Linked DNA regions of Homo sapiens: regions 1 and 2 are each linked to region 3. Evidence: fine-mapped expression QTL. A gene starts in region 3. Each other region holds a variant in brackets. All regions are shown on one strand. Distances are from middle to middle. Region 1 has its middle 19 kb from the start of CRELD2. Region 2 overlaps ZBED4 (zinc finger BED-type containing 4). Region 3 holds the start of PIM3 (Pim-3 proto-oncogene, serine/threonine kinase).

Evidence for each region. PIP is the estimated chance that this variant, and not a neighbour inherited with it, causes the effect.
Region 1: its variant is fine-mapped to the expression of PIM3 in whole blood (TOPMed, PIP above 0.99).
Region 2: its variant is fine-mapped to the expression of PIM3 in whole blood (INTERVAL, PIP above 0.99).

Annotation. Positions count from the first base shown.
Region 1 is chr22:49,932,666-49,943,018 of GRCh38, forward strand. No RefSeq gene overlaps it. Among named protein-coding and RNA genes, the nearest start is that of CRELD2, 19 kb to the left of the region's middle. RefSeq lists silencers at 2,008-2,227, 2,338-2,727, 3,216-3,510, 3,287-3,826 and enhancers at 3,238-4,077, 10,040-10,353. The variant T/G (reference allele first, on the strand shown) is at 4,233.
Region 2 is chr22:49,860,083-49,870,435 of GRCh38, forward strand. All of the region lies in intron 1 of ZBED4 (zinc finger BED-type containing 4), which reads left to right. It also overlaps a transcript of ALG12 not described here. Among named protein-coding and RNA genes, the nearest start is that of ZBED4, 11 kb to the left of the region's middle. The variant G/A (reference allele first, on the strand shown) is at 5,343.
Region 3 is chr22:49,954,696-49,965,048 of GRCh38, forward strand. PIM3 (Pim-3 proto-oncogene, serine/threonine kinase) reads left to right here and starts at 6,077. Exons shown (of 6, transcript NM_001001852.4): 1 at 6,077-6,337; 2 at 6,430-6,539; 3 at 6,623-6,673; 4 at 6,747-7,116; 5 at 7,994-8,170; 6 at 8,245-9,377. The coding sequence starts at 6,253. The coding sequence ends at 8,432. MIR6821 (microRNA 6821) reads left to right here and starts at 8,171; the gene lies at 8,171-8,244. RefSeq lists silencers at 5,050-5,109, 5,250-5,529, 5,570-6,209, 6,260-6,409, 6,550-6,599 and 2 more.

The DNA.
Region 1 (10,353 bases), 22 kb before region 3:
GCGCGATCTCGGCTCACTGCAGCCTCTGCCTCCCGGATTCAAGTGATTCTCCTGCCTCAGCCTCCCGAGTAGCTGGGATTACAGGCATGCACCACCACGCCCGGCTAATTTTTGTATTTTTAGTAGAGATGGGGGTTTCACCACATTGGTCAGGCTGGTCTTGAACTCCTGACCTCGTGATCCGCCCACCTCGGCTTCCTAAAGTGCTGGGATTACAGGCGTGAGCCACCACGCCCGGCCTTATTTATCTATTTTCAAGAAAGAGTCTCTCTGTGTTGCCCAGGCTAGAGTGCGGTGGTGTGATCTCAGGTCACTGCAACCTCTGTCTCCCAGGTTTAAGCAATTCTCCTGCCTCAGCCTCCCGAGTAGCTGAGATTACAGGCACCTGCCACCACGCCCAGCTAACTGTTGTATTTTTAGTAGAGATGGGGTTTCACTATGTTGAGCAGGCTGCTCTTGAACTCCCGACCTCAAAGTGATCCACCTGCCTTGGCCTCGCAGAGTGCTGGGATTACAGGCTTGAGCCACCACGACCGGCCCTGACTTTTTATTGGAGCGAGTACCCTTGACCTCCGCATCACACAACCCTAATATATTTTGCTCCAACAAGCTGAGCAGTCTCTTGTGGGCTGCCTGTCCCTCTCCCAGGAACATGCTGTTCTATCAGCCACCTCCACAACCCCACGCAGCTCTGACCCTGGGCCCGCTCCAGCCCTGCAACTCATTAGAGAGCTGCCTTCACAGCCACTGATGGTCAAATGCTGCTGCCTGGCCATCACCCCCGTCCCTGTCAGCCAGTCCAGTGCTGTGACCGTCCCCTGCTCTCAGTTCCAGAGGACAGCTGGGATCTGTGGTGCCACATGACTTTCAGCCCCTGTCTGCGGTGGCTGTTCTGACATTCACCCCTCCTCACGTGTGTCCCACACTCCAGGAGCCTCTGGGCCGTGAAACAGAGCAGCAGAGGACACCGCCTCCTGGGGTCCTAGTCCTCAGAAAAGGGCCCACAACCCGTCAGCTCTCCGCCGTCCACCACATGCAGCTTATCTGGCTGGGCACGGCTTCGGGTCCCGGGCTCCTTCAGGCTGTGGCCCCTTTGTCACTGGGCCAGCACATCCCCACCAGGATACACTGCAACTTAATCCCAGGAGGGTCTCGGGCAGGTCCTGGGTAATCCCAGGAGGGTCTCGGGCAGGTCCTGGGGAGCCGGGGCAGGGGGCCGGCCTCTCCCACGGAGGAGGCACGGTTTGGAGACATCCTGTTTCTTCCCAGCCAGCACCGAGGCCGGGGCACAGCAGACCCCCGGGGATGGGGTCACCTATTGGTGGCCCCTCTGGTCACTGAGTCTGTGCGTGTTCTCCTGGCCTCTCCATGCAGCCTTCTGTTGTTTTTCCAGAGCTTCAGGGGCGGGCACCAGCAGCCCCCCGAGGACACTGTTCTCAAGGTTGTGCCCCCTGGACTCTCACCCCAGGCTCACCCACCCCAAGAGTGCAGGCCCCTTCCCGTCGCGTCCACCGCCAGTGGTGCCCGCTGGACAGAGTGCCTTTGCCTGTACACCTCCCTGGCGCTGCCTGTCTGTGGCTGGCTCCAGAGTGGCAGGCGGTCTTGGCGCCTCAGCCATGTCCTCAGCTGACCTGGGGGCTGGGTGAGGTGAGGCACCCTGAGACTTCTTCAGCGTGCTGAGCTGTGAGGAGGGGGCTGGGCCTTTGGCCACCACAGGATGACTCAAAGGGTGTGGCCTTCAGTGGGGTGCTCTCCTCAGCCTGCCCCTGCTGCTCCCTCAGCCCCCCGGTCCGGCTCTGTCCCTTTTCAGACTCCCAGACCCCGCAGGCCTGGGGTGGGGACTCTGCCTGCCACCTGGGAAGGGTGGTCGTCAGTGGGGTGACTCAGGGTGGAGGGCCCTGGCCCAGTGGCCCTGCCCTCCTCCTCATATGCCCGTGACCAGCACGCGGGTGTGGACTGAGCCTGTGCCAGGTGGGCCCTGGGGGTCGGGGGGCAGAAGGGCCCAGGTCCTGCAGGGGAGTGGGGGGCGGTGCTGGGGCCCAGAAAGGCTTACTGTAATGTGGCTGGTGGGGGCCACCGGCTCTCAGGCCACACACTCCCCCTCCAGGCCCAGCGCCCCTCCCCGCCTCCCTGGGGCTGCGGTCTTCCCAAACCCCAAGCCGGCTGCTCTGCACCAGTGAGGGGCCGGGAGTGGCCTGGCCTGAGGAGGCTGCAGGGCACCCACCTCTCCAGAGACCCCCTCCACCCACTCCCGGGGGATCCTTCTGGAGAGACCGTTCCCAGCCGTTGAGCAGGGTCCGCTCTCCCCCCTACCCCGGTCTGGCCTTTGGGAGGATCCCCCCAGAGCCAGGGAGGGGTATCTGGCCCCTCACCCCTCAAACGGCAGTCCAGGGCCAGCGTCTTTCTGCGCTCACCCACCTGCCTGCGACGGGGCTCTCTGGGCCACAGGGCGGCCACCACTCGAGGGTCACCCGCAAGCCTCGGAGTCCCTGCTCGGAGCGGGGGCTGGTGGTCGCGGTGGGGGTGGGGAGCGGGCACCCACTGGGGATTCACCCCACCCGGGCCCCCCTCCAGCCTCTGCCCGGCGCCCGGGTCTTCGGTCCGCCCTTTGCAGAGGAAGGACCCCGCCCTGCGCAGAGCGGGCTTGGGGGACCCGGGCGGGCGGCGGGGCGCGGGGTGGGGCGCGGGGGGCGGTGTTGCTCCCGCGGGCGGGAAGGGCGGGGAGCGGCCCTGCCGGGAAGGGGGCGGTGCCGGAAGCGTCAGCTGGGCTTTCCCCGGCGGGCGGGGGCGGGGAGCAGATGGGGGCGCTACGAGGAGGTGGGGGGAGGGGACGCAATGGAGGTGCCGGGGGTGCGCTGAAGAGCGAGACTGGGGCAGGGGGATGAGGGTCTGGGAAGGAGCAGGTGTTGGGGACGGAGGGTGGGGGCGGGGAGTGGGGGCGCGGGGAGGAGCAGGGTGGGGGCGGAGGGGAGGATGGGGGTCCGGGAGGAGCAGGGGCGGGGACGGAGGGGAGGGTGGGGGTCCGGGAGGAGCAGGAGTGGAGGCGGAGGGGAGGGTGGGGATGTGGGAGGAGCAGGGGTGGGGCAAAGGGGAGGGTGGGGGGTTCAGGATGAGCAGGGGTTGGGGCGGAGGGGAGGGTGTGGGGGGTCCAGGAGGAGCAGGGGTAGGGGCGGAGGGGAGCCTGGGGGTCTGGGAGAAGGAGGGGTGCGGGGTGTGGGGCCTGGGGTGAGCAGGGGTGGGGGCGGAGGGGAGGGTGGGGGTCCGGGAGGAGCAGGGACGGAGGGGAGGGTGGGGGTCCGGGAGGAGCAGGGACGGAGGGGAGGGTGGAGGTCCGGGAGGAGCAGGGGTGGAGGGTGTGGGGCCTGGGCTGAGCATGGGAGGGGACCTGCAGCCCGTGCCCAGCCCCATAGGGACCCGCCCGCGCTCCTCCCCCGCCGCCCCGGCCCCGCGCTCCTCGTCGCTGGGAACCCCCTGCGGGAGCAATGACGATGAGCAGGACGATGGCTGTGAGGGCCCGGCCCGAGCTCTGGGGCGTGGGCCGGAGCGCGGTTGGCCTTGACCTTCTTGGAAAGCCCTTGGCGGCAGGTGACTCCGCTTAGTCACGGCCCCGGGGGCGGGGGCTCCCCGAAGGAAAGGAGCCCCCGCGGGAGCAGGCGCAGAATGAGATGCACGAGCGCCACCGCCGCCGCCGCACACCCCCCGCCCCCCCGGGGTGGAAGCCAGAACCTGCGTCCCCAGCTCCCCCAGGCCCGCCCACAGGGCGCCTGGCTGGGCCTCCGAGCTTTCCTGTTTTCTCTGCAGCCTGGCTGGGCTTAGGGAGAGGTGGGGGGTGCGCCTCTTGATGCTGGGGACGCGTGTGGCACAGGGAGCCGGGTGCAGCCAAGGCTTGGAGGGGTGCCCCCCGCCCCACCCAGGTCACACTTCACCCTTCGTGGGGTCGGGATCTGGTCTTTTTACAAGCTAGGCGCCCTCCCCCCTTTTTTTTTTTTTTTTTTTCTCAAAAATGATCACAGGGAATGAGCCTCAGCCAGGACAGCGGGCTATGAGGCTGCCTGTTGCCCCCACCAGCCTGAATTCTGGCAGGGCCCTTCTCCTCCACCCACAGCCCTCCATCCACACCCCTCCAGTGGCTCCAAGGCCCATCTGACTTGGCCTCAGTTCACCTGTTTACTTCAGGGACACCTGGTTATACTGCCAGAGGCAGGTTGGGGGGCCTGCAGGGCCGGCCTCTC[T/G]CAAATCCACTTCTGGCTCTGCGGTCCCCACAGCACTTCCTTACCCCTTCCCCATGCTGGAATCTGAGAACCAGATATGGGGGTCCTGGTCTCAGCATCCCTTTCCATCCGGGGTGCCCTGCTGCTGCCAGCTCACGTGCCCACCATCCCATCCTCCTCAGGGTCAGTGTGGCTGCAGAACGGCCTCCGGGGAGAGCAGGGTGGGGGCTGTAGCCTGGTGCACCCCCAGCCTGCTGTCCCAGGTGAATGCAGACCCCTGGCTCAGCTGCTGACCAGATAACAGTGGCCCTTGTGCCGAAGCCTGGGTGGGGGCTGGGGTACCAGCCCCGGGTGTCTCCGGGCACAGAATGGCACCCACCCCCACCCCACCCGCAGGCAGCGGCCAGCAGGAGACATTGTCCGTCCCCCTCAACCCTGGCTATTAATAGCTCCTCTGGGCTAGGAGCGGCTATAAATAGTCCCAGCCCCTCACACAGGCCCATTCAGGCACCCGCTGCCTGGGTGTGCACAGCAGCCACACTTGCGCTCACTCAGAGCTGTGCACGCGGGAACCGTGCCACTTCTGCCCCTCCACGCCATCTGCACTGCACAGATCCAGGCTGTCCCTGCAGCCCTCACTGGGTCTCCTGTGGCAGGGGAGGGCCCTGAACCCTCTGGAGGCTTTTCCCTTGCCCCCTCCCGCCACGCCCAGGGTCCCCTTGGGGCTTCTAGCTACTCTAGGGTCTTGCTCTGGGGCTTCTGGAAGTCAGATGCATTCACCCAAAGCCAGCCTGGGGCGGGGGGAGGTCCACCTGGAGGGAGGCCCAGCCCCTGCAGAGACCTAAGCCTGGCCTCTGCCCCAAGCACTGCTGCCTCGGGCCATGAGGCTCACAGGGTCTCCTTAGCCCAAGGCTGGTCCAGCCTCCCACCTGCCCTGTGGGGCAGACGTCACTGAATTCCCACTCCTTGCCCTGGAGGCCTCATTGCCGTCAACTAGGCTATGGCCCCCACTGTGACTCCCACTCCCAGGGTGACAGAATGGGCACCTGGTCCAGGAAAGCCTGCTCTGTGGACCCCCTACCCGTCCACACTGTCCACGCCCCATGGCTAGTGGTGACAGGAGACAGGATGGGGGGCATGGGGGCTGCTGTTATTGTGTCCAGAGGAGAAAAGGAAAACAATCCTGTTTACGGAAAAGGAATGTCCGTCCACTGCCGCCAGCCAGTGGCCTTCCTGGGGGGACAGAGGCCCTTTGTTGGGAAAACAGGAAGCGAGGATTTCCAGGATCTGCCAGGCCGCCCGCCGGCCACCCGCCCCACTTCCGCCAATTCTCGGCAGCCTGCGCTGGCCACCAGCTGCCCGTCGGTCCATCCACGTTTCTGTCTATCCGTCTGACCGTGGGGCCCAGGCGTACAGCCTTAGCACATCCTGCTCTATGTGGTGCCTCAGTCACACAGGGACAAACACCCACAGGGTCCTCGCAGGGCCTGGGAGGGCTGCCTGGGAGCTGAGACCCAAGGAGTGAGGACCCGTGCCCCACATAGGGAAGGGCAGTGCCAGACATGGAGAAGGCGGATGGGGCAGGGGCCACGGGCCAGGAACCGGGGAGGCGGGAACAGCCAAAGGGAAGCTGTGCCAGACTCTCCCCTCCCCACCCAAGAGCCAGGGATGGTTTTGGGGTTAGGGGTCACTGTGTCCTTACTACCCAAACCCACTTACAGTCCATGGCCCACGCGATGCTCGCCTGTCACTGACCCGGGACAGCATGGGCTCACTCGTGCATGAACACCAGACGTGTGTACACTCAGCGGACACTCACCTGTGCACACACAGCACACACGTGCACACACCACGGACACTCTGACCTGTGCACACACAGCACACACGTGCACACTCAGCGGACACTCACCTGTGCACACACAGCACACACGTGCACACACCAGCACCCCCCAGCACGGATGCAGGCACCGTCATGAGCACGGAGACCACCCCAGGACACCAGCAGCTGCACCCCCCGGCGGGGCTGCACTGGCCGACAGTGCCCAGGGGACTGCTCCCAGCCCCTGTGGGGGGCTTCTGTGATTCTGTGTGGGTTCCTGTGTGCCCTGTTTGGGCTCTCACCGGTCAGAGGGGGCTGGCACAGTGCCTGTGACCTCAGTCCTGGGCAGGGCCAGGAGGTGCCAGGAGCAGGCAGGCCTGGGGCAGGACTCTGTTTAGGGCCAGCTGGAGGACCCTCTGCCCCCACCTCCACATCCCAAGTCGGCAGCTTCCTCCCACTGTGGTGGTGATACAGGAGATAGAAAGAAATTATTTAGGTAGATAATGAGGGCAAAAGAGTCCTCAGCAGAACCTCCCTTCTAACAAAAAGCAGGCCCGGGCGAGGTGGCTCACAGCTGTAATCACAGCACTTTGGGAGGCCAAGGCGGGCGGATCACCTGAGGTCAGGAGTTCCAGACCAGCCTGGCCAACATGGTGAAACGTCTCTACTAAAAATACAAAAATTAGCCAGGCATAGTGGCGGGTGCCTGTAATCCCAGCTACTTGGGAGGCTGAGGCAGGAGAATCGCTTAAACCTGGGAGGCGGAGGTTGCCGTGAGCCGAGATCGCAGCACTGCACTCTCAGCCTGGGCAACAGAGAGAGACTCTGTCTCCACACAAAACAAAAAAAGCAGAAAGCAGCCCAAGAAATCACTTCTTTTTTAACAAAGAGCAGCCTGGAAGATTAGGCGGCAAACAGATCAGGCTGGAAGCTTCACAGGACATGGAGGCAGCTGCACAGACAGAAAGGGCTCCCTGGGGCCAGGAACGTCCACCCTGGGGCTCCATGTCCCTCTTAGTTAGCACACACGCACAGTAAGAAAAAAATGAGCGGCACGGAGTAGCTTCCCACGTGCATAATAAAAGACTGGGGTGCCAGCCGGTCACGGTGGCTCACGCCTGTAATTCCAGCACTTTGTGAGGCCGAGAAGGGTGGATTACCTGAGGTCAGAAGTTCAAGACCAGCCTGGCCAACATGATGAAACCCTGTCTCTACCAAAAATACAAAAATTAGCTGGGTGTGGGGGCGTGTGCCTGTCATCCCAGCTACTCAGGAAGCTGAGGCAGGAGAATCGCTTGAACCCGGGAGGCAGAGGTTGCGGTGAGCCGAGATCGTGTCATTGCACTCCAGCCTCGGCAACAAGAGTGAAACTGTCTCAAAAAAAAAAAAGATTGGGGTGCTACACTATGTAGATGGCACGCCCGGTCCCAACCAGTTTTTCGTGCCCTATGTAGATCAGACACTGCCTCCCCACTAGCTCATCTATAAAAATCTCTGCATTTCATCTCGGATGGGCAACCCATTTTTCTGGGACCCCTCCCTGTAGCAGAGAGCTGTTCTCTGTCTTTCTTTTTCTTTTTTTTTTTTTTTTTTGAGGCGGAATCTCACTCTGTCACCCAGGCTGGAGGGCAGTGGTGTGATCTCAGCTCACTGCAATCTCCATCTCCCAGGTTCAAGCGATTCTCCTGCCTCAGCCTACTGAGTAGCTGTGATTACAGGCATGCACCACCACGCCTGGCTAATTTTTGTATTTTTAGTAGAGATGGAGTTTCACCATATTGGTCAGGCTGGTCTCAAACTCCCAACCTCAGGTGATCAGCCTGCCTCAGCCTCTGAAAGTGCTGGGATTACAGGCATGAGCCATCGCGCCTGGCCTGGACAACCTGCATTTAAAAAGCACTTTCTTAGGAAGTATGTCAAATGTACATGGCTTGAGCCACCACACCCAGCCTATTCTCTTTCTTTCCTTTCTTTCTTTCTTTCTTTTTTTTTTTTTGAAACAGAGTTTTGCTCTTGTTGCCCAGGCTGGAGTGCAATGGCACAATCTTGGCTCACCGCAACCTCCACCTCCCGGGTTCAAGTGATTCTCCTGCCTCAGCTTCACGAGCAGCTGGGATTACAGGCATGCGCCACCACACCCAGTTAATTTTGTATTTTTAGTAGAGACGGGGTTTCTTCGTGTTGGTCAGGCTGGTCTCGAACTCCCAACCTTAGGTGATCTGCCCGCCTCAGCCTCCCAAAGTGCTGGGATTATAGGCTTGAGCCACCATGCCCAGCCTATTCTCTTTCTTTTGCTGATTAAATGTCTGCTTTAACCTCACCCTTCTTGTGTCCTCATCCTTGATCTCCGTGGCTGTGAGACCAAGAACCTTGGGTGTCACCCCAGAAAAAAGGCTGCTTCAGCAGTCCATCTTCTGACCCGGAAGACCCCTGCCCTGGTGTAGGTGAGGGAGGCCCACGTGGATCTACGATGCCAGGTGGGGAGGAGGACAGGTGTGAGGGGACAGCTGGAGCAAGACCCCTGGTCGGGCGTGCCTCAGTTCAAAGGCCCAGACAGTGCAAGCAGAAGAAGGAGAGGGTGCTGGGAGGAGCCGTGGCAGGGGCCAATCCAGGGCCTCTGGGCCCGGTGAGGGCTTGGGGTTCACTCCCATCAGGTGGGGCTGCACCAAGAGGCTGTGGCTGATGCTCAGAGGGTCTCTGCTGCTGAGCACAGGTGGGGACTGGGAGCAGCAGGCTGTGAAAGTCCCAGCCCGTTGGGAGGACAGGCAGTGGCCTGGCTGGATTCCAGGTCTGTTTTAATGTGGAGCTGATGGAACTTTCGGAGGCCGGGGTGAATGGTGAGATGTAGACAATTCCAAGAGCGGACACGGCTGGGGGGGCCAGGGCCTCAGTTCACACCCTGACCTGCCTTTGCGCAGAGCGGCTCCCAGGAAATCACACCCTTTCTGTGGCAGACACAAAGGTCAGGTGTGAGGGGGCAGGTGGACTGGGAGTTGGAGGAAGGGGAGGGCCCGGCCCTGTGAGCAGAGGGTGACCCTTCCCTGGCATCTGCTGCTGCCATGTGCCCCAGAACCACGAAGGTGTGTGGGTCCCACATCCACGTGCAGGCCTTGCATCCATGGCTAGGTCCCACGTCCAGTTCCAGGCCCGACATTCTGGTCCCTGGGTCCAGCCCATGGCCTTCCTCCATGGGCGTGCTGAGGGCCTGCAGCCCGTTCTCTGCCAGCCTGGCCCCTAACACAAGGCAGTGACCCCAGCCTCTCACCAAGGGGACCCATTAGCCACACTGCATCAGGCCTATGGCAGGTGCTCAGTGCAGTGTGGGCCATGATCCCAGCAGGCCCCACACCTCTCCAGATGCTTCCTGACCCCAAGGAGCCTGCATGCTGGCCAGGGTGGAAGCAGCTCTGAAGAGTCAGCACTCGCGGTGGCCAGGACCAGAGAGGAAGGCAGAGTGCCTGTGTCCCAGGAAAGAAGAGGGCATGGCGCCCAGCTGCGGGGCTGCTCTCAGGGCAGCAGCTGCTTTGGGGACACCTCAGCTGGAGTCTCAGGTCAGGGAACCCTTGTGTCCACACATCCACCTGTCCATTCACCCAGGGGTCCACCCATCCAGCCTTCTGCAGTGCTGACATCCATGGGCTCCCCAGGTTCATTTAATGGTGAATGAATGAATGAGCCCACTGTTTATCCAGGCGCCACTGTGGGCCATGGCACAAGTGGGCTCTCAGGAAAAACTACTTATCAAATGATGAATGAATGAATGTGTGAGAGACAGAGTGAGTGAGTGATTGAGTGAGTGAGTGATTGAGTGAACGAGTGATTGAGTGAACGAGTGATTGAGTGAATGAGTGAGTGAGTGAATGATTGAGTGAGTGAATGACTGAGTGAATGAGTGAGTGAGTGAATGAGTGAGTGAATGAGTGATTGAGTGAACAAGTGATTGAATGAGTGATTGAGTGAACGAGTGAGTGAGTGAATGAGTAATTGAGTGAACGAGTGAGTGAATGAGTGAACAAGTGAGTGAAAGAATGAGTGAGTGAATGAGTGATTGAGTGAATGAGTGAATGAGTGAGTGAATGAGTGATTGAGTGAACGAGTGAGTGAATGAGTGAGTGAATGAATAAATGAATGAGTGAGTGAGAGAATGAGTGATTGAGTGAATGAGTGAGTGATTGAGTGAACAGATGAGTGAATGAGTGAGTGAGGGAGGGAGTGAGGGAGGGAGGGGGTGAGTGAGTGGGGGAGAGAGTGAACTGGCCTCCCAGTCCCCCAGCTGCTCTCTGCTGACCCAAGATCTGGAGGTGCCCAGCTCCCGTCCTGCCC
Region 2 (10,353 bases), 95 kb before region 3:
AGCTCAGGAGTTCCAGACCAGTCTAGGCAGCATGGCAGAACCCCATCTTTACAAAAACATACAGAAATCAGCCGGGCATGATGGTATGTGCCTGGAGTTCCAGCTACTCAGGAGGCTGAGGTGGGAGGATCACTTGAGCCTGGGAGGTTGAGGCTGTGGTAAGCTGCAATGACGTCACTGCACTGCTGCCTGGGCGACAGAGTGAGACCCTGTATCAAAAACAAAACAAAACAAAACAAAAAATACATATATATAGTTTTACTTAATTTCTTTGATTCTTAAATTATATGTTATTCTGAAAAATCTTAATAATATCATTGGCCTTGTTTTGTGCTAAAATGTGCATACAGTAGGTTGTAGAATTACAATACCACTCCTGTAAGAAAACTGCTTAGTTAACTTTGCAGGTTTTTGTTGAGTTCTTTTTGTCCTTAGTTATCTTCCACTTTGGATGAATAAAGTGCTGTATTTTAAAGTTCCTTGACAAATACTCTTGTTTTATTTTTTATTTTATTTATTTTTCCCAAGAAAGAAATAAGACAAATATTATTTTCTCTGGTTATGTTGCCCATTTGTTTCAGATCATTTTTAGATTTAGGATTTTTTACAAATTTTATGTACAAAATAATTACCTGTTATAAAGGTCAGAACTACATAAAAGCTACCTTTCTTATCCCCACCACTCTTCTAAGCAACCTTTTTTTTTTTTTTTTTGAGACAGAGTCTTGCTCTGTTGCCCAGGCTGGAGTGCAGTGGCTCGATCTTGGCTCACTGCATCCTCGGCCTTCCGGGTTCAAGCAATTCTCCTGCCTCAGCCTCCCGAGTAGCTGGGACTACAGGCGCCCACCACCACGCCCAGCTAATTTTTTGTACTTTAGTAGAGATGGGGTTTCACTATGTTGCCCAGGCTGGTCTCGATCTGAGCTCAGGCATTCCACCCACCTCGGCCTCCCAAAGTGCTGGGATAATGGGCATGAGCCACCATGCCCGGCCTAGGCAACGCTTTTTACTTCTGCTACGTCCTGTAAAAGTAAGCAAAACACACCCACAACTCATTTCCCCTCCTGTCTTTCACAAAAGTTAGCATGGGCTGTTGACACTGTGTGTGTCTGGTTTTTCTTGTTTGTTTGTTATGAGATGGAGTCTCGCTCTGGATTCAAGTGATTCTTGTGCCTCAGCCTCCTGAGTAGCTGGGACTACAGGCACCCGCCACCACGCCCAGCTAATTTTTATATTTTTAGTAGAGATGGGGTTTCACTGTGTTGGCCAGGCTGGCCTCAAACTCTTGGCTGCAAATGATCTGCCTGCCTCAGTCTCTCAAAGTGGTGGGATTACAGATGTGAGCCACCACACCTGACCTGTTTGTTTTGAGATAGCGTCTGGCTCTGTTGCCCAGGCTGGAGTGCAGTGGCCTGATCTTGGCTTACCGCAGCCTCGACCTCACGGGCTCAAGTGATTTTCTCACTGTACCCTCCTGAGTAGCTGGGACTACAGGCGCATGCCACCATGCCAGCTGATTTTTTTCAAATTTTTTGTAGAGATGGGAGTCTCACTATGTTACCCAGGCTGGTCTTGAACTCTTGGGCTCAAACGATTTACCTGCCTTGGCCTCCCAAAGTGCTGGGATTACAGGCGTGAGCTGCCGTGGCTGGCCCCTGCGTGTCTGGTTTTTCTGCTCAGCACATGTATGAATGTGTGGGTCCTATTGACGGGCTCTGATCCTTTGCCGTGGGATGCCGCTGTGACTGACGTTGCCGTGTGTTGCATTTTTTGTGTTTCTGGTGAGGACTGTCTTCAGGTCTGTTCGTAGCGTGTGGTTGCTGGGTGGGAGGATACATGTAATTTTGGTGAGTGCTTCCAAGTTCCCCCGCACAGGCCTGCACCCTGTCAGCACTGTGGGAGAGGGCCTGACCAACAGAGGGCATTACTAAGCATTTGGATTTTTGCCAGGATGGTAGGGTGAGAAGGGGTATCTTGAACGGGTTTTCATTTAATTTGCTTCAATCTGAATGTGAAAAATGAAAAAACTGTGCTTTACTGAATTGGATGTAGCACGGAGCAGTTGAGATCATTGAATGCAAGTGGCTCATTTTGTTAGTAAGTCCCCGAGGGCGGTTGGCCCTGTGCGTGGAACCTATACGGAGCGGCCCCAACGCTTCTGCCGCAAAGTCGCTTGGAAGGTGGTTTCTCTGTCTTTCTTATTTTTTGTGCGGCGGAGGCCTTACTTTTTTGCTGAGACTGGAATTGATCTCCTGTGCTCAAGTCTCTCACCGTGGCCTGCAAGTAGCTGGGACTACGGGCGTAAGCCACTGCGCCCAGCCTAGTGTAGCTTTATAAGTGTGTTTTTAAACCTTTTTTATTTTAAAGTGTGGCACAGATACAGAAACTGAATAAAATCAGTGTCTAGCGTAATGAGTCATATGATAAGATGGACACAGTTGTAACTGGTGCTTGGGTCAAGAGGTGCTTGCCAGCTTCCAGAGCCCCTGTGCGTGCCGCCCCAGCCCCTCCCAGCAGAGGCTGCCTCAATCTTACTGTTACAGCAGCTACTTCCTTATTCTTTGTTGTTTTGACTGAACTGAGTACCTCTAAATATTAGTTAAGTTTTTCCTTTTTTTTTTTTTTTTTTTTTTTTTTAGACTTAAGTCTTGCTCTGTCGCCCAGGCTGGAGTGCAGTGTCGTGATCTCGGCTCACTGCAACCTCTGCCTCTTGGGTTCAAGCAATTCTCCTGCCTCAGTTTCCTGAGTAACTGGGATTACAGGTGCCCACCACCACGCCTGGCTAATTTTTGTAGTTTTAGTAGAGACAGGGTTTCACCCTGTTAGTCAGGCTGGTCTCGAACTCCTGACCTTAGGTGATCCACCTGCCTCAGCCTCCCAAAATGCTGGGATTACAGGTGTGAGCCACCGCACCCGGCCAGCCTTTCAGTCTGAATCTACAGGTTACATTATCCACCCCACCTCCCGTGGAAGTATTTTCTGAGGTAACTTGGTGGTTGGACTCGTGCATCTCACGGTCTAGATTTTGCTGGCTGCATTCTTCTGGAGAGGCCCAGTGTGTTCCTCTATCCTTTGGTTTCTTGTAGATTGTGTTTGGTTGGTTGGTTGGTTGGTTGGTTTTGAGGCAGGGTCTTGCTTTGTGGCCCAGGATGGAGTGCAGTGGTGCTCCCGGGCTCAAGTGATTTTCCCACCTCAGCCTCCCTAATAACTGGGACCACAGGCACGCATCACCACACCCAGCTAAGTTTTAAAAATTTTTTTGTAGGCCGGGTGTGGTGGCTCACGCCTGTAATCCCAGCACTTTGGGAGGCCGAGGCAGGCGGATCACGAGGTCAAGAGATTGATACCATCCTGGCCAACATGGTGAAACCACGTCTCTACTAAAAATACAAAAATTAGCTGGGCGTGGTGGCGAGTGCCTGTAATCCCAGCTGCTCAGGAGGCTGAGGCAGGAGAATTGCTTGAACCGGGGAGGCGGAGGTTGCGGTGAGCTGAGATCGCGCCACCGCACTCCAGCCTGGGGACAGAGCGAGACTCCGTCTCAAAAAAAAAAAAAAAAAGTGTGATGTTCTGGCTGAGTTATTGCTTCTTTATGTAGTAGATGAACTATTAAAGATAAACCTCTTCTTATCCACTCTCTGGTGTTATAGTTCATGGAGAAAACTGAAGATAAATGCCTGATTCTTTTTTTAAATTCATCAGTTTTCACAATGATGAATCATTTTCCTATCAGCCTCCAGAGGCGACCAGTTAGGGATTTGATGTTGGTATTGGTGAACTAATGAATTTAAACATATTTGGGATGTTAAATTCTGTCCTCTTTGGACAGTGAGAGCCCCTACAAGCTGGCTCCTGGATCCTTTTGACATCATTCCTGAACTCTCTCAGAGGTTTCTGGCTGTCTGATATGTTCTGTGCTCATCTTGTATTTTTCCGGCTCCAGACCTGAAATAAGCCATTTCTTCAGCTCTGGTTTCTTTTAAGGGCTTGGAAGTTTCAAAACCACAGTCTGCATGTGACAGGTGCTCACTGCTGTTGGGTTGGCCGCTGGTTCTAGGCCTCTGCTGGAGTGTGTGATCTGCTTTCTGACGGCAGGGCGTTCACATGGGTGTGCTTTAATCTTACGTCTCCGTCCTCTTTTTCCACTGAGAGTGCTGGTCTCAAGGACAGTGGAGATGAGAGAATTGGAATATCGCATAATGTCTCATCTGTTTTATCTCTTGCTACAAACATCACAATCTCAAAATAACAATGGCAGTACAACTGCCACCTATATCATTACTGAAAACAGTGAAGATATTTTTTGCCTAAGTCTTCCCATTCTGTGTAGTTATGCAGGGTCTCAACTACAGAGTGTGTAGCCATTACGTACTACAGATGCTTCGCAACTCAGGACACGGCCACGTCCGATAAACCCATCAAAGTCGAAAATGCACTTAATACCTGATTGGAGCCTGGGCATGGTGGCTTACGCCTATAATCCCAGCACTTTGGGAGGTTGAGGTGGGAGGATCACTTGAGCCTGGGAGTTTGAGACCAGCCTCAGCAACCTAGTGAGACCCCCTCTCTACAAAAAATGTTTTAAAATATTAGCCAGGTGTGGTGACACTCAGGTGTAGTTCCAGCTACTCAGGAGGCTGAGGCGGGAGGATTGCTTGGGCCCAGGAGTTTGAGGCTACAGTGAGCTGAGATTGTGTACTGCACTCCAGCCTGAGCGCCAGAGTGAGACCCTGTCTCCAAAAAAAAAAAAAAAAAAAGCCCTGATTAAACCGTCGTAGAGCTGAAAGATTGCGAGTCAAACCATCGATGAAGTTCAGATGCTCCTTGATTGACCATGGGGTTCTATCCCAGCAAGCCCCCCCCCCCCCCCGTGAAGTCAGAAACCACGGAGTCCAGCTATTGTGCTGTGTTTCTCCCCTGCAAACCCTTATTCAGTCCTAGCTCTGCAAGTGACGGCAGCCCCGGGTCTCACTAAGGGCAGGGGTGTGTTCTGAGAAATGCGTTACTCAGCGATGTTGTCGTTGTGTGAACCTCATAGAGTGCACCTACACAAACCCAGATGGTATAACCTGTCACTCCGAGGCTGCAACTCTGCACAGCAGTTACTACACTGAAGCCTGTAGGCATTTGTAACACCGTGGCAAGTATTTGTGTGTCCAAACAGAAAAGGCACAGTAAACAGATGGTGTCGTTATCTTATGTAGCCACTGTGGGGTGCGCTGCTCTTTGCCGAGTGAGGTGTTGCTGTGCAGCACGTGACTGTGTGTGTTAAATGCTTACACGGGGGCCGGGCGCAGTGGCTCACGCCTCTAATCCCAGCACTTCGGGGGCTAAGGCGGGCG[G/A]AACTCCTGAGTTCAGGAGTTCGAGACCCGCCTGGCCAACATGGTGAAACCCCGTCTCTATTAAAATACAAAAAAAAAAAAATAATAACCCGTCTCTATTAAAATACAGGTGTGGTGGCAGGCACCTGTAATCCCAGCTACTCAGGAGGCTGAGGCAGGAGAATGGCTTAAACCCGGGAGGCAGAGGGTGCAGTGAGCAGAGATCACACCACTGCACTCCAGTCTGGGCGACAGAGTGGACAAAAATAAAAATAAATGCTCACATTGGGTCCTCATGTTTCTGTTGTGTTTTGGTTGAGGTTTGCTCTCCGGTAGATCTCTCAGGAAGGACTCATGGAACAAGATGTCTTGACTTCCTGCATCTTGATAGTAGTTTTTCTGCATTCATTGTGCTCGAAGGTCAGTTTGGCTTAGTATAAAATCCTTGGTTCACATTTTCTTTTTTTTTTTTTTCCCTTTAATTTTTTGTAGAGCTGGGGGTCTCACTATATTGCCCAGGCTGGTCTCAAACTCCCAGCTTCAAGCAGCCCTCCCGCCTCCACCTCCCGATGCTGATTATACGCGTGGGCCACTGTGCCTGGCTAGTTCACTTTTTTCCTTGAATGTCTTAACTATGTTATTCTATGGTCTTCTAGGATAAAGCATTGCTGTCAAAATCATGACAGTTTTTTCTTTCCAAGTGACTTTGTACTTTGCCTGAGAGCCCAAAGGATTTAAGTCTAGTAATTTTGTTAGAAAATAAATTAGTGTTATTAGTTGAGGATGGATTTTCTCAGTCCCTTTCACTATGTGGCTTGACAATTTCTAATTCAGGAAAGGTTTTTAAGTGTTTAGTATTCTGTTCTCTTGCCCTGTCCCCTCCTGTTTCTGGGGTGGCTGTTCTGATTGTACATATGTTGGATCTTCTTTACGTGTCTTTTAAATTGGTCCGTTTCTCTTGAGTCTTTTTTAATCCCCTCATTTCTTTTTCATTAAAAAAAATTGTGTTTCCCTTTCATTTATCTTAAGCTGTCATCTGTGGAGTTTGTTCTCCTGTTTCTTCTTTTTTAGGTCTTCATTCTTGAAGTCATATTTTACTTTTATTTTTAGTGTTTTTGTGGGACCTATAATCTCACATCAGAATTTTTCTATCCTGATTTATGTTGTTTCTTTATATCATTTTCTTAATTTCTTTAGTTTCTTTGCAAGAGGAAGTTACCGTTTTCATTTAATCTGAGGTCACATTTTTCTGTGAGCATATTTCGTTATCTGCAGTGATGTTTTTCTGCTCTTTAGTTTTTCTCATACCCTTCTGTGAGATGTGACAGAATTCTTTTCTGTTGCCTATTATATTAGTTTTCTAGTGCTGCTTTAACAAATTACCACAAACCGAGTGGCTTCACACAAACGGAAATTAGGAATCTGAAATCTGAGATGGGTCTCACTGGGCTAAATCAAGATGCTGGCGGCTCTTGAACGGTGGCTCTCGGCAAATGCACGTTCTTACCTCTTGCGCCTTCAGGAGGTCACCTGCCTTCCTTGGCTTGCATTGGTTTGGTTTGCTGTTTTTTCTAGTGTTTTCTTTTAGGTGAGTACTTTATTGACTGGAGGTCATCTTTTCTAACACAGGTATGTAGAGCTTTCAGTTTCTTGCTAACCACCACTTCAGCTGCATCTCATCCATTTGGTGGGTTGTATTTTTATTGTCGTTCAGTTGAAAACACTTTCCAGTTTACCTCACGGTTTGTTTTTCACCCGTGAGTTATTTAGAATTGTATTTTGTTTTCAAATAATTGCTTATTTCCCAGATTTCTTTCTTTTGCTTTATAATTTAACTCCATTGTGTTTAGAGGACTTGTATAGTTTCAGTCCTTTTGAAATGCCCAACGCGTATGTTATGGGCCAGCATGTGGTCTATACTGTGGGAGGTTCCCTGGGCCCCTGAAGAAGCGTGTGCCAGGCGGCGGTGGGAGCGGCGGTTGGGGAGGCACTGCGGTGCATCCACTGGGTCAGTTGGCTGACGGTATTGCTCAAGTCTTCTCTGTTCTCGCTGACTTTCTGTCTAGTTCTGGGTGGCCTGGTAGGCCCAGCAGCTTCTCTTCATGGGAGTTTTTGCCCCAGAAAGAAGTGTCAGCTGTTTTGTTTTGCCCCAGATCGGACCTTGGACCCTGACCCTCCTCTGCTTTGCAGATGTGCAGAAAGTCACCCACCTCAGCAGCTTGGTTCTGTGGGCCGTCCAGTGATACCTGTTGGCTACTTGGGGATGCTCGGTGTATCACACGCTTGATGACATCTTTCTTTTCCAGCTGCCAGATCTAATACCATCTAGGCCTTGTAATACTGACTGCAAGGGGGCTTCCATCCTGATACACCCATCCATCATCAATTAAAAATATCTTCAGTGGAAAATGCATTTAATTCACCTGATGTGCCGAGCATCATAGCTTAGTCCAGCCCCCCTCAAATGTGCTCAGACACTTACATGAGCCCACAGTTGGGCAGAATCACCTGACACAAAGCCTGTTTTGTCATAAAGTGTTGAATATCTCATGTAAGAGTGTCACACCGTATGTTGTTAGCCTAGGAAAAGATCAACATTCAGAATTCAAAGTACAGTTTGTACTGAATGCCAGTGGCTTTCACACCATCGTAAAGTTGCAGGTTCGTAGGTTGAACCGTCATTAAATCAGGGACCCACTTACCCATATTCATGGTTTGTCCCTTCCACTTACATTTGTTGGTTAACGGAAAGACCTTGTCAGTCTTCTTTTTTGTTGTTGTTGATAACATCAGAGGATTGTGGTTTTACTGTTCTAGTTTTCCTTTTATTGAGAGATTTGGGGAAACTAAAAAATAAAATATAGGCAGTGTTACAAGCAAACAAATGAGCTTACTATATTTCAAATGAATAAAATAACTACACTTGAGGAAGGAAGCTGGCTGAGGCTGGTGGATCACCCAGGATCAGGAGTTCGACACCAGCCTGGGCAACATGGTGAAACCCCATCTCCACAAAAAATGCAAAAAATTAACTGGGTGGTGGCACACACCTGTCATCCCAGCTACTGAGGAGGCTGAGGTGGGAGGATTACTTGAGCTCATGAGGCGGAGGTTGCAGTGAGCCAAGATTGTGCCACTGCACTCTAGCCTGGGCAACAGAGCGAGACTGTCTCTTCCAACAAAAAAGAAAAATGAAAACTGACCCAAGAAACTCTTGGACACGATGTGATTATAAACCTCCAAGTAAAAAGATAAAAATTATAAATGAATTGTGATCTCCAGCTAGAAGGCTTGTTTTCTTGGTGGCCTGGGTTAGTAATTCTGCAGCTACTTCGTGCATGTGTTGTAGGGTTGAGCAAATGAGGAAATCTGCCAGGAGGGTGGGAGCCCAGCCTCCCAGAGGTGGATTGAAACGTCACGGATGCAGGCCGGGCGCAATGGCTCACACCTGTAATCCCAGCACTTTGGGAGGCCAAGGCAGGCGGATCACCTGAGATTGGGAGTTTGAGACCAGCCTGACCAACATGGAGAAACTCTGTCTCTACTAAAAATACAAAAAAAAAAAAAAAAATTAGCTGGGTGTGATGGTGTATGCCTGTAATCCGAGCTGCTTGTGAGACTGAGGCAGGAGAATCACTTGAACCCAGGAGGCGGAGGTTGGGTGAGTCGAGATCATGCCATTGCACTTCAGCCTGGGCAACAAGAGCAAAACTGTCTCAAAAAAAAAAAAAAAAGAAAAATCACGGTTGTGGAAAGGGGGATGCTCGGTCTTGTGATCTCAGGGTCAGGGCAGAGTTGGCGGTGTCAGTGTGAAGTTGTGGCTTTGATTCACGTACACACATGCATGTTGGTGTGTGTGTTTATGGGTTCTAGTGCTTCCGCTGGAAGGGCCTAAAGGCAGAGGCACCCGTAACAGTGAGTGCACGGCTGCCTACCTCGTACCCGCGTGGTGGTTATCCACCTCGGGCCTTTTTGGCAGCGCTCGTCCTCCAGACCAGATTATTTCATCTCTGACTGGAGAACACTCTTGCGTGGACTTTAGTGTGGGTCACTTAGAGACACGTTCTGTGTTTGGTTTGTCTGATGGTGTTTTTTAGTTCCTGTTTATTCCTCAGGGAATATTTGTACTGCTTACTGAATTCTGGTTTGGCTCTCATTTTTCACAGCTTTGAAGATGTCATTCCTCTGTCTCCTGATTTACATTGTTTCTCTTAAAAAGTCAGCAGTGTATCTCATTGGTTTTTTTCTTAAAATAGCTTTCATGGAAATAATCTGATATACGTAAAAGTGGAAAGGGTAGCATAATAAACCCTGTGCACGCATCCCCAGCTTCAGAATTACCAGTTCACAGCCATTCCCATTTCATCTGTGTCCTCCACTCACTTTTTAAAAAGTTTTGTTTTTAAAAAGAATTTCAACTTTGATTTTAGATTCATCAGGCACATGTGCAGGTTCACGACATGGTATATTGCGTGATGCTGAGTTTGGGATAAGAATGATCGTCGCCCAGATCGTGAGCATGGTACTCAATAGGTTGTTTTTCAGTCTTGTCCCCTCCTCCCTTCCTCCCTCCCTCACTCCTCACTCTCGCAGTCCCAGTGCCTGTGGTTCTCATCTTTATGTCCCTGTGTACCACATGCTTAGCTCCCACTGATAGGTGAGAACATGTGGTATCCGGTTTTCTGTTCCTGTGTTTGTTCACTTAGGATGATGGTCTCCAGATGCATGCATGTTGCTGCAAGGGACATGATTTTGTTCTTTTTTATGGCTGTATAATATTCCATGGTGTGGATATACCACATTTTCCTTATCCAGTCCACCATTGCTAGGCACGTAGGTTGATTCCATGTCTTTGCTATTGTAAATAGTGCTGTGATGAACATACATGTGTACATGGGGTTTTTTTGTAGAATGATTTATTTCTTTGGGTACATACCTGGTAGTGGCATCACTGGGTCCAATGGTAGCTCTGTTTTTAGTTCTTTGAGAAGACTCCACACTGCTCTCCGCAGTGGCTGAACTCATTGACATC
Region 3 (10,353 bases):
CGGAGGTGCGTGCATCTCTGGGGTGGTGACGGCGTTCTGAGCCCATGCTCTGCAGGAATGTTTGCTGTGATCAGGCCCCCTGGGGGGTCTGAGCCCCTGGGACTCCATCTGCAGGTCCGGCTCCTCATGGCTGGACACTGGCTGGAGCAGTCCTTGGACCATCCTTGGAAGCTTCAGAAACTCTTCCAGGAAAGCGTTACTCCTGCTGCAGGCCCTGGGCTTCCGGCTTCTCAAAGCCCCCCTGGGTGGCTCCAAACTGTACAAGCCTGACTGGGGACCCCCGGCCTGGCTCTGGGTGGGAGAGAGCACCCCACTCTCACCTCTGCACATTCTGTGATCCCCCAACGCCCTCCTGACCTCCTCCGGGGAGCCCCTGGGTGAGACCCACGGGGGAGCTGGGCTCGGCGCGTGTGTGAGCCTGCAGCAGCCACACAGACACCCTGGAGGAGGGCCAGATCTGGCTTCTGGCTCCTGGGGAACCCCCACCACCACCTCTCCTGAGTCTCCTCCTCATCAGAATGCTGGGGACCAGAGCCAAATGGCTGGGGCCTATCCTGTCTGGGCACCAGGCAGAGGCCACCCAACTCCCTGAGTCCTCCAAGGTCTCCAGCCTGGGCCCAGAAGCTAAGCCCTCGCAGTGGGGTCAGATGTGAGCTGTTGAGGGCAACTCTGCCTCCCCAGCCCCGCGTGGACCAGGCCAGGACAGGAAGAATGAGGTGGGGCCCCCATGACCAGCTGCGGCTCTTGGCCTGCAGGATTTCAGCAGGGAGAAGGCAGAACTGCCATGTGGCACGCTGAGCACTGCCCAGCCGCCTCATCCCAGGAGCCCTCCTCCCGGGGTCTGTGCCCAAAACCACAGGCTCTTCTACCGGGCGCCCACTGGGTGCTGTGGGACGTGCTGCTTGGTACAATGTCGTCAGATTCTCCGCACAGCCTCCACAGAAATCGCAGTGCCTCTCCAGAGACTGAGCCTGATAGAGTCTGGGGATGTGTCTGTGACTCTGGGCTGGGTCAGCGGAAGAGCAGGGACCCAGGCCGAGGTGCCAGGACGGCCCCAAAGGGCCACCAGGGAAGGCACTGCAGGGCCAAAGGCCAAGAGCTATGAAGTGGGCAGGGCTGTGGTCCAGGCCCAAGGCCAGGGTGGCCTGTCCCTGGTCAACAGGTCAGAGGTCCCAGGTGAGGGGGCCCTGCACGCCTGCCCTGGCCCCCGGCCCAGGCCTGGGACACACAGGCCACGCAGCTCCGGCTCAGGCTGAGTCGTGGTCTGGGTGGTGGCAAGGCCACAGCTCTCCAGGTTGGCAGATCCAGTGAGGCTGCTGCGCTGAAGCCACAGTTCCCACCATCACTGCAGCCCCCGGGCGACCAACAGAGGCAGCCCCCCTCCAGCTGGGTCTCAGCGTCTGCTCCACTGAGGACAGGGTTCAGGACGGGACACTCCCACAGCATCTTCTATGTTTGTGCAGGACTCTTTCTGCAGAGTCCAAGTGACGGATGCCAGGCGGCCATGCTCACTGGGGCCCAGGCCCCGGGTGGCTTATGGAATATAAATGGTCTGTGCTGGTAGCAGGTGGGGGTAACCTGGTGGGAACAGCTGCCTCTCTAACACAGGCCAGGCCTCAGCTGAGGGGTAAAACTGGTGTCCTCCAGGCAGGGACAGAGGCTGGAAGAGGCAGCCAAAGCGGCTGGGCCTGAGTTCATGCAGGTCGCCCACACCCCCAGCTCCCACTGACTAGGCGCCCCACTCCACCCCAGGCCCAACCCTGGGATGCCTTTGGTGAAACGTTGCAAAATCCTGGCACAGCTCTGCTGGCTCCTATCTGCAGCGGGTGAGAGGCTGCGACGACCGAGAGTGGAGGCCAGAGGGGAAAGGGCCTCTCCCCACAACAGGCATCGCCTGCCCCCGCCACTGCCCTGGGAGCACCCAGTCTTGGCCGCTGCAGCCTGTGTGGGCTGGAAGACGAGGTGCAGCAGGTGCCCCTCCCAAGCTGGGAACAGCTGGGGGAGTCCGGTCTGCGGGGAGATGACGCAGAGCTCCAGCCCAGGGCCTGGGGCGGCCGTACTGGGACATTGATTCTGGGTGGCAGCAGGTGCTGGTGGGGGCCAGGCCCATGGGCTGGGGAGGAGGGCCTGTACCCTGGTGGCCCAGGGGAGCCACAAAGGGTCCAAGGCAGGACTGTGAGGGGCTCACAGTGGGAAAAAGACCATGGTGGCCAAGGGGGCTCACACTGGGGCCTGGGATGAGGGTGGGAGCGGGCAGGTGGATCGGCAGGAGGGAGGTTTGGGAATGGGATAGGCCTCGGTAAGGGCTTGGGGGCAGGTGAGGGGACGCCCCCTCCTCAGGCATGGCCTGGGTTGGAAGGGCATCACATACAGGCAGGACAAGGCCGGGCGACCCTGTGGGATAGGCACGGGGCAACTGGAAACAGGCTGATTAAGGAGGCCTTGGTCATTGGCTTGGAGACTGGGGGTGGACAGGATCCCCAGGGAAGGAGGGAAGAGGGGCGGGATGGGCCGGCGGGAGGCAGGACAGTGGGGACACAGCCTGGGGAGCAGGAATGGGGGTGCCCGTGGAGCATGAACCCTGTTAACACTCCCCTCTGCAATGCCCCAGCTTTGAGGAGGTGTCTGTAAGTGTGATTCTATGTGTGAGTGTTTGTGAATTGGTGCGTGTGAGCAGTGTTAGCATGCATGTGTGTGTGGGAGACTGTAAGTGGCCCCAGCCACCTTCCATTCCACCTCCTCATCCTCCCGAATCCAGGCAGGCCAGCCTGGCTTGGGTCACCATGGCAAGAGCGTGACCCTCCTTCCAGCAGGCCAGGGTACCTGGGGGGACTCGCCGTGTCCACTGCGGAGCAGGGGCGGCTGTTTCCAGGTCAAGCAGTCGGGATGGGATGGCTCAGGGGCTGGGCTGGGGACTGGGGTGTGCAGACCCTCTGACAAGCTCTGCTCCACTCCCCTGTCCCTGCCCTGGGAAACACCTGCTCCAAGGACAGGCAGAGGCCCTGGCCCTGGAGCAAGGCTGCCCCTCTCAGCAGGATAGCCCAAGGGAAGGAGGCACCCATGCCATGCCGGCCTGAGCTTCAGGTGGGGTGGGGGGTGGGAGGACACAGGAAGGGGCTGGGCTGGGCCCTCTGCAGTCAGTACCCAGGTGGAGCGGCTCCCGCACCAAGACCCCGCCACGCCCACCTCCTGGCTCACCTCCTATCTGCAGGAGCGGCCCCAGCTCTGGCCCATGGGCTGGGCCTGCCCATGGGGCCCACTGGATGGGCCATCCACGAACCAGGAAAAAACAGGCAGGGCTGGTGTCCTGCACTGCTGGGGACTTGGCCGGGGGGTGGGGTGTTGATGGGACCTGTGGGAAAGGGGTGGCCCAGGGCAGAGGGTGAGAGGCCCTGAGGCCTCTCAGATTTTTCTTGCCCTGTATGCAGAGCGCAGATGCTCCACAACTGGGATGACCCATATCTGTTTGCCAAGCTGAGGAACAGGCTGGGCTGTGCCCAATGGCAGGGGAGGGGCACGACAAGGTGAGCAGGGTTATCTGGCGTTACTGGGGACCCCAGCACTCCAACTAGATCAGATGTGGTGGCCTGGGCCAGACACAGTCTAAAAGAGGCCTCAATGTCAAACAGTCCCGGGGGAGAGGGAAGGGCTGGGGACCATGCTGACCCCGCACGGAGCTCACCGTCAGTGCAAGGGTCCTCGCTGCACACACAAGCACGTACAACAGTAAATCGACAACATACACCAGTGTCTGGACAGACGTGGTTACAAAGATGTCACACTTTAGGGAAAGGGCTGCCTCTGGCCCTGCCCTGCCCTCCACTCCAGGGCCAGGCTGCTGGACCCCCACGCAGGAGCCCTCCGGAGGCTTTCACCGAGGCCTGTGTGGCAGGAATCCCATCTGGAGGCCTGGAGGAATCTCCAGCACACCTGGAGTGAGCGGGAGGAGGGCCGTGGAGGACAGGCACACCGTGCTTTCTGAAGGAGCAAGTCCTCCTGGATCTTAGTTAAGGGACACTTGAGGGTTTCAGAGCAAGACCCGGGGCCTAGGGAGAGCCAGGGTGGGGTGCCTGCCCGCCAGAGCCTGGTCTTCTACGGCCAGGATGACTCAGGGAAGACTGGCCTGGAGCCTGACATGTCAGACTCAAGGAAGACTAGCCTGACATGTCAGGCTGAGGACCCTCGCCCCTCCAGACTGACATGAACTCAACTGTAGTGGTCACCCCCTAGACCTACCGTGCTCTCCAGCATCTCTGCCCACCTCTGCTGCGTGTCCAGCACAGAAGAGGGCAGCCCCACTGGACCCTCAGGTAGGTCCCCGGGAGGACCCACATGGGCAGCAGCCCCTCCTCCTTCGCAGGTGCTGTGTGGATACTGCTGGAGGGGAAGGCTTGGGGTGTCATCCTACCAGGGATCTGATCTCGGGGGAGCCCTGTGCTGGGTGCGTGGTGGGTGGGGGAAGGCTAACCCACCAGCCCCAACCCTGCCCTCGTACTGCGGGAGAGAACTGGACAGAGCTCTGGGAAGCAGCGGCTGGAGGGGGAGGGGCCTGGGGACAAACAATGTCGCGTTGGCTTTGATCCTCAGGACCCAAGGGACAGGAAGAGATGAGCTAGGCAAGAGAGGAGCCCCCAGGAGCACAGGCATGGGCCCAGGCAGCGGGCGACGAAGCGAGCCCCAGAGGGCGCCCAGATGGCAGGTGGGCCTGGGCCAGTCCCGAGAGCCACAGCCTCAGAAGAGCTGAACAGGGGAGTGGTGTGTGAGTGGTCAGCGCAGGGACAGCGATGGTGACTGTATAGAGATGAGAGGTCAGACTTAGGGGAGGCTGGAAGCTCCGAGGCAAGTGTGTGTGCGCGCTGACGGTCACACCAGACCGCCCGGGGATGTCTGCCACAATATTTAGACCCCTGAGGGCCACTGAGAACGCCTGGCAGTGCCAAGAGGACCAGCCCCTGGGCCCTCTGGCCCCCAACTCTCAACCCACTAGCCCTGGGGCTGGCGGGTGGCCACTCACGTCCTGGAACCCTGAGCTGCTCTCAGGCCGGTGACTTTGGACCAATGTTGGCAATCTGTGGGTTTGCACCAAACCACACAGGTGAGTCAGACTTCTGTACAGAGAGCAGGGAAGGGGCACGACAGGGTGAAGTCCAGACCAGGGCAATGTGTACCCCGGCTGTTCAGCCTTTGAGTGCGGCTGTCGCAGCAATCAAGGTGGGCTCCCTGGTGGAGGTGGACAGCAGCTGCTGGAGAGCCCGGAGGGCAGCCAGGACCGTGTCAGACGGCAGGAGTCGGGCGGGGCCACTCCAGGCACCGGCCAGCAGGGCAGAGGTACCAGGGAGGGCCCTCGGGCTGCGGGCGTGAGGTCAGAGCCCAGGGTGAGGAGGAAGCATCTCCAGCCAGGTGCGCTCTCGGCCCCCGCCGGGGCTGCGAGGCTGGGGGCGCTGCCGCTGCGAGGGCTTCCAGAGGAGCCGGCGCTACCTCCCCGCGCGCCCGGCCACGTGCGCGACGGGATGCGCAGACAGCCGGGGACGCAGACTGGCGGCGTGTGTCACCTCGAGGCCGCGGGACAAGCGCAGGTCGCCTCCCGCACTCCCACACCCCCAGGAACCCTGCTCGGGGCCGGCGGGTGACCTTCCTAGGCACTGCTGGGGGCGGAGCCAGGAAACGGCTCGCCCCGCCATTGGCTGGGGCGCCGGATTTCTTTAAAAACTCCGGCTTCCATTGGCTCGTGCAGTCCCTCCTCGTTCTGCCCGAGGCGCCACGGCCGCCACCCGCGCGGGCACTGCGCCTGCGCGGAGTGAGAGCGTGAGCGCGGAGAGCGGACCGACGCGACACGCCGTGCGCCTCCGCGGCTGCGCTACGAAAACGAGTCCCGGAGCGGCCCCGCGCCCGCCGCACCCGGCCCTCGCCCGCCCGAAGACAGGCGCCAAGCTGCCCCGCCGTCTCCCCAGCTAGCGCCCGGCCGCCGCCGCCTCGCGGGCCCCGGGCGGAAGGGGGCGGGGTCCCGATTCGCCCCGCCCCCGCGGAGGGATACGCGGCGCCGCGGCCCAAAACCCCCGGGCGAGGCGGCCGGGGCGGGTGAGGCGCTCCGCCTGCTGCGCGTCTACGCGGTCCCCGCGGGCCTTCCGGGCCCACTGCGCCGCGCGGACCGCCTCGGGCTCGGACGGCCGGTGTCCCCGGCGCGCCGCTCGCCCGGATCGGCCGCGGCTTCGGCGCCTGGGGCTCGGGGCTCCGGGGAGGCCGTCGCCCGCGATGCTGCTCTCCAAGTTCGGCTCCCTGGCGCACCTCTGCGGGCCCGGCGGCGTGGACCACCTCCCGGTGAAGATCCTGCAGCCAGGTACGCGCGGGGCCGGCGGGGCCGGGGCCGGGGCCAGGGCGGGGACCGGGGGCGCCCCGGGCCGCACCAACCCCGCCCGCGCCTCCCTGCAGCCAAGGCGGACAAGGAGAGCTTCGAGAAGGCGTACCAGGTGGGCGCCGTGCTGGGTAGCGGCGGCTTCGGCACGGTCTACGCGGGTAGCCGCATCGCCGACGGGCTCCCGGTGAGTCGGACCGCCGGGCGGGCCCGGGTTTCTCGCGCGCCTTGCGCCTCGCTTGGCCCGGCCTGACCCCCGCGTCTCCGCAGGTGGCTGTGAAGCACGTGGTGAAGGAGCGGGTGACCGAGTGGGGCAGCCTGGTAAGTTGGGGCACGGGCGGCGGCGGCGGCGGGGGGCGGGCGCGGGGCTTTTGCTGACCGCCGTGTCCCCCAGGGCGGCGCGACCGTGCCCCTGGAGGTGGTGCTGCTGCGCAAGGTGGGCGCGGCGGGCGGCGCGCGCGGCGTCATCCGCCTGCTGGACTGGTTCGAGCGGCCCGACGGCTTCCTGCTGGTGCTGGAGCGGCCCGAGCCGGCGCAGGACCTCTTCGACTTTATCACGGAGCGCGGCGCCCTGGACGAGCCGCTGGCGCGCCGCTTCTTCGCGCAGGTGCTGGCCGCCGTGCGCCACTGCCACAGCTGCGGGGTCGTGCACCGCGACATTAAGGACGAAAATCTGCTTGTGGACCTGCGCTCCGGAGAGCTCAAGCTCATCGACTTCGGTTCGGGTGCGCTGCTCAAGGACACGGTCTACACCGACTTCGACGGTGAGCGCGGGCGCGGGGCAGGGAACGTTCCGGGGGCCTTGCCGGCGGGTTAACGCCTGCAGGGGCGGCACATGGAGGGGCTGATGACTGTTGGGCGGCCGCGCGCCCTGGGTCTGCTCTCGTGGGGAGCAGAGGCCCACGCGCTACCCTGGGGAGGGCTGAGCGAGGGATCAAGAGCGGGATCGTGCTGGGTGGGGGCTAGGGGCGCGCTCAATATTGCTTCCTCCATCGCGTTGGGGGGTACGGGGCCTCTTGCCCCGGTGTGGGAGGCGCGTGACATCCTTCCGGCCCGAGAGACCCCCGGCTGGGGGCGGTAGCGGAGGAGTCTCCGTGCGTGACGCAGGGCGCAGCCGGGCTGGGTCTGCGCCGGGAGCCTGGAGGCCCCCGCGGCGCGGTTGGAGTGGCGGGGCCTCCCCTGCGTGGGGGCGGGAGCTGCGTGCGTGCGGAGCGCGGGGGCGCGGCGGCAGAAATCCCCGCATTGCGGAGCTTGGGGAAGCCGGGGCTCCCCGCCCGCCCCTCCCTCCTCCCTCCCTCTCTCCCCTCCCCCCGTTCCCGCAGGCAGGCGCGCCGGGCGGTAAGGGACCCGCGCTGTCCCCCCCCCACCCAGGTAGCCTCACAGCGCATCTGTTTGTTGTGAAAGCCGAGCTCTTACTCATGTGACCTGCTCCTCCCCCGCGGCCGGCGGAGGGGGACGGCCGGCCCCTCCCCCAGCCCCCCCATCGCCTGCCGGGGTTTTTCCAGGGTGATGACGAGCAGGATTTTGAGGCCTGGCTCTGCTTCCTGTTACTGAGGCCAGGGAGTTAACCAGCAGGGACCTCGCCGTCTGTTGAGCGGCTCTGCCTCTGTGGTGGGCGTGCTAAGCCCTGTGTCCCCTTAGGCACCCGAGTGTACAGCCCCCCGGAGTGGATCCGCTACCACCGCTACCACGGGCGCTCGGCCACCGTGTGGTCGCTGGGCGTGCTTCTCTACGATATGGTGTGTGGGGACATCCCCTTCGAGCAGGACGAGGAGATCCTCCGAGGCCGCCTGCTCTTCCGGAGGAGGGTCTCTCCAGGTGCGTGGTGGCTCGAGGCGGGGGTGGGGGCCTCGCCCTGCTTGGGCCCTCCCTGACCTCTCCGCTCCGCACAGAGTGCCAGCAGCTGATCCGGTGGTGCCTGTCCCTGCGGCCCTCAGAGCGGCCGTCGCTGGATCAGATTGCGGCCCATCCCTGGATGCTGGGGGCTGACGGGGGCGTCCCGGAGAGCTGTGACCTGCGGCTGTGCACCCTCGACCCTGATGACGTGGCCAGCACCACGTCCAGCAGCGAGAGCTTGTGAGGAGCTGCACCTGACTGGGAGCTAGGGGACCACCTGCCTTGGCCAGACCTGGGACGCCCCCAGACCCTGACTTTCTCCTGCGTGGGCCGTCTCCTCCTGCGGAAGCAGTGACCTCTGACCCCTGGTGACCTTCGCTTTGAGTGCCTTTTGAACGCTGGTCCCGCGGGACTTGGTTTTCTCAAGCTCTGTCTGTCCAAAGACGCTCCGGTCGAGGTCCCGCCTGCCCTGGGTGGATACTTGAACCCCAGACGCCCCTCTGTGCTGCTGTGTCCGGAGGCGGCCTTCCCATCTGCCTGCCCACCCGGAGCTCTTTCCGCCGGCGCAGGGTCCCAAGCCCACCTCCCGCCCTCAGTCCTGCGGTGTGCGTCTGGGCACGTCCTGCACACACAATGCAAGTCCTGGCCTCCGCGCCCGCCCGCCCACGCGAGCCGTACCCGCCGCCAACTCTGTTATTTATGGTGTGACCCCCTGGAGGTGCCCTCGGCCCACCGGGGCTATTTATTGTTTAATTTATTTGTTGAGGTTATTTCCTCTGAGCAGTCTGCCTCTCCCAAGCCCCAGGGGACAGTGGGGAGGCAGGGGAGGGGGTGGCTGTGGTCCAGGGACCCCAGGCCCTGATTCCTGTGCCTGGCGTCTGTCCCGGCCCCGCCTGTCAGAAGATGAACATGTATAGTGGCTAACTTAAGGGGAGTGGGTGACCCTGACACTTCCAGGCACTGTGCCCAGGGTTTGGGTTTTAAATTATTGACTTTGTACAGTCTGCTTGTGGGCTCTGAAAGCTGGGGTGGGGCCAGAGCCTGAGCGTTTAATTTATTCAGTACCTGTGTTTGTGTGAATGCGGTGTGTGCAGGCATCGCAGATGGGGGTTCTTTCAGTTCAAAAGTGAGATGTCTGGAGATCATATTTTTTTATACAGGTATTTCAATTAAAATGTTTTTGTACATAGTGGATAATCCTGTATTTATGGGGCTGGGCATCCTGGGGGAAGAGAGGGGCTCTGAGGAAGGGCTTTGGCTGCTGGGTGACCTGACAAGTTTCCCGTGGGGCTGGTAGTTTTGCCCACGGGGGAAACGGGGGAGGCCCAGCTGGGTGCCAGCCTCCCCAGTGCCACAGGCTACTTCATGTGGCTTGTGGCCCACCGCACTACCCCGTGCTGCACCCAGGGAGAAGAGCAGCTGCCTCCTGGGGTGCCTCTGGGAGGTGGAGGCAGGGAGCCAGGCCCTGAGGATGCAGCAACCCACACTAGTCAGGAGGTCATTCCTCGGTGGTCCCAGGAGGATCTCTGCAGCCCCCACCCAGGGAGGCCTTGCCAGTGGAAATGGCCATACTTGCATCCTGGCTTGGTGGAAACAGAGACGTGCGGGGGGGTGGGGGAGGGAGTCCATGCTGCCTCAGAGGGTGGCTGGGGGTTTTGAAGGACAGGGAGGAGTTTGCCAGGCACATGGGGTGGGAGTGTGTTCCGGGCAGTGCCAAGGACGTGCAGAGGACATGAGGGTGGGGTTTGGTGGAGGGTATCGGGGTGTTCAGTCAGTTATAGTTAGACCCTGGCCTGGCGGGTGTGTGGTGAGAGAGTGGGGTATGAACCAGGTTCGGGTGTGTCAATGGGCCTGGCCACAATGTTCCTGGTGGGTAGAGGAGGCCTGGGTGGAGGGTCCCAGTGAGACTGCTCCCCCACCCCCACCCCAGGGGCCTTCTGCTCAACTGCCCACCCTGTGCTGGGCTGTGGGGTGCCCCATGTTGGCAGTGGACCTGCACCTGGGGCATCACCCAGTCTGCCAAGCGCACCTACTCGGCTCTCTGGCTCCTGGAGCCCTGTCTGCCCCCTGCCTCCCATCTGCCCCTCCGAATAAGAGTCCCTGATAAACAGCCCGGGGCAGGCAGCACCATACTGGACAGAAGACTGTCCCAGGCCCGAGGCCAG